Regions from separate parts of the Homo sapiens genome. Here region 2 is linked to region 1. Evidence: fine-mapped expression QTL. A gene starts in region 1. The other region holds a variant in brackets. All regions are shown on one strand. Distances are from middle to middle. Region 1 holds the start of TMEM87B (transmembrane protein 87B). Region 2 overlaps TMEM87B (transmembrane protein 87B).

Region 1 (2,908 bases):
CTGGACATTATTTCATGCATGTGGAAAATACCCATCCCAAACAGTGCTGGATGAGTCATCTGACCCCAGAGAAGCCGGAGATAATGCCTCTTCCAGACTTCCTGTCTCTCTTTTGCAAGACTTTCCATAATTCTGCCCCTGCATCTCTCCCACATCATCTCCTCTAATTACCAGACGCCAAGTTTTCTAATAGCCTGCCTTGGAAAGAAGAGTTTCCACCCACTCATGCCTCCAGATTCGCCTTTCAAGCACTCCCTAATCACAAGTCCCGCCCCACCTACACACACACTCTCTCTCCCGGAACTGTGACAGGAACTGTAGAGAAATTCAGGAACTCAAGAAGAGAGAAATAGAGGTAGGGTGACTACTGCACGTTTCCCCCTCATTTAAATTTTTTCTTTCTTTTTTTTTTTTAAGGAAGCGGCAGACCCGCTTTCTAAGTTTATGCAGAAACTGAAGCGCTGGCAAGTCCTCCCTGCGGCCTCAGGGGTGTGGCCCACTGTGGCTGCATCCGGACAGGAAGAGTCGAATCCCAAAGATGCTGCTAGATGTGCCGAGAGATTCCTGATCCAGCCAAAACATGTCAGAGCAGAATGAGGGCCACGGCGTCGGGCATGGTGACCCTCAGTAACAGTCCGAGCGCTCGGACCCGAGGGCCGTCCCATGCGCAATCCTGACGGCTCTTGCCTGCAGCCCAGGTCGGGCCGGAGGAGGGGCCGCTCCCCGCTCCCCGGCTGTAACAGACAAAAGGCTCAGGGAGGGTATCAGGGGACCCGGTGCTGACCCGGCAGAGGCAGGGTGAACAAGCCCGGGGTCAAGCGAAGCCGCACGACGGCCCTGACGGCCCGAGACGTGCCACGCCTGGGTCCCGACACTCCACTTACGTCGTTGACTGTCTCTAACCAGAGCCCGAGCTCAGGGACCGCGCGCACAGCCGCCGGGGTCCAGCACAGGAGGCAGAGGGCGACGCGCAGCAGCGGGGCCCGGGCGGGAAAGCAGCGGCGGCGGCGTGGCAGGAGCCCGGCTACCGAGCGGCAGGCGGCGACCATCTTGACCAGGAAGCTGCACCTGGCGCTCCGAGACGCCTGCCACACCCGCACCTGGTGCAGCACCGCCCCAGGCAGGCGGGTCCGAATCCGGGACGCGGGGCTCGGACTCGGGTGTGGAGGAGGGGCTCGCGCTTGGGCCTGGGCGGAGAGGCGCCGTGCAGTTCTGGGAAACCCGGCCAGGACCGGGAGGCAGGGCTTAGGGCTCTGAGCCGGGCCCGAGCGTGCAGCTGGGAGATGCCTGGAAGGCAGAGATAGGAGCCAGGATGTGGAGTTGGCGGCGAGACGTGGAGGCTGGGCTCAGGGCCTAGCGTGGGCGTGAAGATAGAAGAGGAGCCGGAACGTGCAAGGGAGGGCTGGCAGCCCGAGCGCGGAGGCGGGGCCGGGTAGGGAGGCGCCGCCGGAGTGTGGAGACGAGGCGGGGCTCGGGAGTGTGGGGGCGGGGTGGGAGGCGTGGCTCGGGGCCAAGCTGGGTGTGGGGACAGGGCAGGGTTGGAGGCGGGCTCGGGACTGTGGAGGCGGGGCGGGGCTCGGGACCAGGGCGGAGTGCGGAGGCAGGGTGCCCCAGGAAGGAAGAGCTTGGGGCCAGGCCGAGCGTGGAGGCGGGGCCGTGTGGAGGCGGGGCCGTGTGGAGGCGGGGCCGTGTGGAGGCGGGGCCGTGTGGAGGCGGGGCCGTGTGGAGGCGGGGCCGTGTGGAGGCGGGGCCGTGTGGAGGCGGGGCCGTGTGGAGGCGGGGCCGTGTGGAGGCGGGGCCGTGTGGAGGCGGGGCGGGGCTCGGGACCAGGCCGGAGTGCGGAGACAGAGTGCCCCAGGAAGGAAGAGCTTGGGGCCAGGCCGAGCGTGGAGGCGGGGCCGCGTGGAGGCGGGGCCGTGTGGTGGCGGGGCCGTGTGGAGGCGGGGCGGGGCTCGGGACCAGGCCGGAGTGCGGAGACAGAGTGCCCCAGGAAGGAAGAGCTTGGGGCCAGGCCGAGCGTGGAGGCGGGGCCGCGTGGAGGCGGGGCCGCGTGGAGGCGGGGCCGGGATTTGGAGGCAAGACCCGGCGGGGAGGCGGAGCCTGAGCGTAAAGGCGGGGCTGGTCAGGGAGATGGGGTCGGAGTGGGGAGGCGGAGTTGAGGACCAGGCAGTAGTGTGGAGACGGGGCTGGACGAGAAGGGCTTGGGGTTAGGCCGTAGTGGGGAGGCCAGGTTGGGCGAGGAAGCAGGGCTTGGAGCAAGCCCTAGTACGGAGACGGGACTGGGCGGGGAGGCGTGGCCTGAGTGAGGAGACGGGCCTGAGTGGGGAGGCGGGGCCTGAGTGGGGAGGCGGGGCCTGTCTGGGAGATGAGGCGCAGTGGGGAGGCGGGGCTCGCCGCCAGCGAGCGCGAGTGTCAAGGTCCTGGAGTCGAATGCCTAGTAAGTGCTACGGTTGGAGTGCAGTCTAGAGTTCTGTTCCCAGGGTGTCTCCATTTCTTGCGTCTTCTACACTTACCCCTGCCTCGACCCTCTCAGCTGTATGGAAACCGTTCTTTAAATTCAGGGAATGTGCCAGGAAAGTGCTTTGAGGCCAAGGCCAGTTGAACACAAGGCATTGTGTTGTGAAGGTTAACGTTAATAGGACAGTTAATACTTTTCAGAACAAGTAGTTACTTGACTGGCTTAAAGCTCAGAGGGGTCAGGGCTTGGATCCGTCTTATTGTGTACCTTCCCTTGCATTTTCGGCTGTAAGCTGAATACATGTTTTGCTGTCAAAGAGAATTAGTTCATTCATTATCAAATGTAAATAATATCCAGCAAGGGAATAGAATCCTGTGCTAATATTGTTATTAACGTAGAATAAGATCGATTTATAGTCCAAAGGCCTTGGCTGCTTTACCAGTCACCAGT
Region 2 (2,908 bases), 62 kb before region 1:
TTATACTTTCAGCTTGACAGTATAGTAATGTAAACATTGTACTGTAATACAAGGGGAAAAGGTGGTATTTTCTACAGGATGTGTAAGTTAAAATATTATTTTCTTTACAAGAAAAATATGGGAACATTCTATCATCTCTCAGGCTTAAAAAATTCACATATTCACATATTTTTCCTTATTTTTACAATAAAATTAATTGCTATCTAAAGCAGATATTTAAATACTAATCTAAATCAAATCATGAAAATTCCCTTTTAAGCAAATTTCACACATCGTATGAATGAATGGCATAACCAGAACACTTAAGCATTTTGCCTAGAAAAACATCAAACCAGACCCGTATCCTCACTAACAGTGAGACCCACCCTGATGGGGGCATGCTAAAAGTAAACTGATTTGAGTGCCTCAGAGGCCCTGATGGCCAGTTTCAGGAAACTGTGCAGAAACAGGGATGATGAGCTGCTCAGTAGCCCTAGGTATAACTTCTCCTGGTGTCCTTCCTGTGAACTACAGCTATGGCACTAGAGCACCCCTCTTGCGTATGTAAGGGGCCTAAGAAGACCCTTCATAGAAATACTCGATCCAGGTCATCAGTCATCAAGAGATGGCACAAATATTACTGAAGGTGACAGACAGCACATGCCCTTCTAGTAACAGTATTTGTAATGAGGTTACTAGGAGGGAATTCTGCTTTCTCTGGATGGAAGAAAAGTTTGCACTGCAGCCTGTAGCTGAGCTACAGGGTAGCATCATTTATCCTACCAGCTGTAGAAAGACATGTTTTGGTAAACATTACTGAGATTCTGTCAGAGACAGTTTCCCTTTATTAACATACTCACCATTAACTCCACACTCCCACTCTACCAGATTTGCAGCTCCTACTGCCTGCAAGCCCAATATTCCACATTTTAAAATTCAACTAGAGCCACATAATGAGTAGGGGGTCAATCTGTCTCAAAACTTGGGGAATGGGGTATTAGATAAAAATGTTACTGGGCTAAGGGGAGAATACAACAGAACATAAATGCTGGGAATTATAGTGGGTGGGAACCCATTACTGCAGCAGAAACTGAAATAAGAAATGGAATTCACAATTGTTAAACTACTTTTTTTTTTTCTCCCTAGGAAGGATATCCCAAAGCAAGGGCATCTTGAAAAGCATGATTTTCTCGGTAATGTTTGCCAACACTGTTCACTTTCCACATGGTCACGACTGAAAACACATTTACCAATACCTTTCAAGCGATATGACTACCAGAAATAGA[T/A]CTTCTTTACTACCCTCTCTGAAATGAGTAAACAAGAAATAAATTCAGAAGGTAGGCTTTTGAAAGAAAAAGAAAAAAAATTGCTTGCGGCTTCACAGTGAAAAAAATTGGAGTGTTTGTGCCGGTTAAGATTTTAATGTTTTCTTAATCAAAATTCTCTGAAGTCATTCTCAATTTACAAGGTTAGAACTCCTTCAAAGAAAAGACATACAAGACTCTAGCTTTAATTATTATTCTAAATGTCCACTAGCCCTGTATCTTTGGTCATGAAAGCAGCAAAACATTCACATTTTCATCATACTACATTCAATTGCCTTTCAAGTTTAGAACATTCTACATTTTAAAAAAAGACATTAAAGCAAAAGATTTCATATTACACATTACAAATATATGATGTAACGAAATAAGGTATAAAACATGGTTGAAGCTTAAGAAATTAATTATAAAATCAATAGTGATGTAGCATGCAACTAAATGTATGTTTTTATTATGAAATGTAATATGCCAAGATTATGTAAAAGATACAGTTCTAATTTCCACAAAGTTCACCAGTAATGGGTCTCCCAGCTTGCCAGTTAGGAAGTGCTCTGGGGGAGCCACGTGGCCACCACCCACCCCAGCACACTCAGCAGCATCGCATGTACACATGGCCTGAGTGAGGGACAATGAGGGTAATTCTTTGGTAGTGACCCTCAAGACATCTCTCTCTGTGCACTTGTGTTCCCCTGAGCTCAGAGAAGACCTAACTCCATGATTTGATGTGCATGATGAGACTCAAACAAGGGCTTTGTATAGATTTTTTAAAAAGGGTGGGTTGGGGGGGAGCGGAAAAAACCTATAAATATGCCTATATTCAAACATTAACTGTTTTACTTAATATCAAATCACTTCAGTACAAATGTCAAAGAGAAGTATTATTGCATCTAGTAAACCTAAGACACAGAGACACGGATATACTATACTCCAGAAAATCACAATATCTACCTCAAAGGTGACTAGAAGAAAGACCAAGGGTATTTATTAAAAAACATTTTTCTTTAATCTGGAATTGTCATATGTTCCAGAGAAAAGAGGGAGAACCCAAACCCACAGGCCTGCCACCTATCAGCTAAGAGGCATCTGTGCAGATCTTTATCATAATACTTTCCTCAGGTTATTTCCAAATCCAATTTAATGGATATTCAACTGACACTCAAGAGTCAGCTTTAAAAGGACTATAGAACCTCCTACCATCTGAATTCTTCATTTTGATACACAGACTTCCAAGATAACACAATAAAAATTTTTAGGCAATATCAAATCAAAGCTCACTTTCAGTCTTGATGAAGGATAGTCCTTCAGGCTTAACTACATTTCTTATACGGGTTCCAATCACATTATCTTTTCTGAAGAGAACATTTTTTCAGCCATTTCAGATCTGGTCATGATTTCCTGAAGAAAAAAAAAGAAGATATGTATCAACATGTTGATACTACTTCCAGAACCCTAACAAAAATTTTCTAATCTTTCAACAGCCACATTTAGGGAAACTAAATATATTCCATAATATACATGGAAATATTACATACAGAAAATAAAAGGCCAAGTACAGTGACTCATGCCTGTAATCTCAGCACTTTGGGAGGCCGAGGCGGGAAGGCTGC

What was found.
Region 2: its variant is fine-mapped to the expression of TMEM87B in whole blood (TOPMed, PIP above 0.99).

Annotation. Positions count from the first base shown.
Region 1 is chr2:112,053,733-112,056,640 of GRCh38, reverse strand. It overlaps TMEM87B (transmembrane protein 87B), which reads right to left and starts at 1,372. Exons shown (of 19, transcript NM_032824.3): 1 at 885-1,372. The coding sequence starts at 1,049. RefSeq lists enhancers at 231-570, 601-670 and silencers at 1,401-2,130, 2,331-2,380.
Region 2 is chr2:112,115,872-112,118,779 of GRCh38, reverse strand. It overlaps TMEM87B (transmembrane protein 87B), which reads right to left. Exons shown (of 19, transcript NM_032824.3): 19 at 1-2,696. The coding sequence ends at 2,637. Among named protein-coding and RNA genes, the nearest start is that of FBLN7, 21 kb to the left of the region's middle. The variant T/A (reference allele first, on the strand shown) is at 1,266.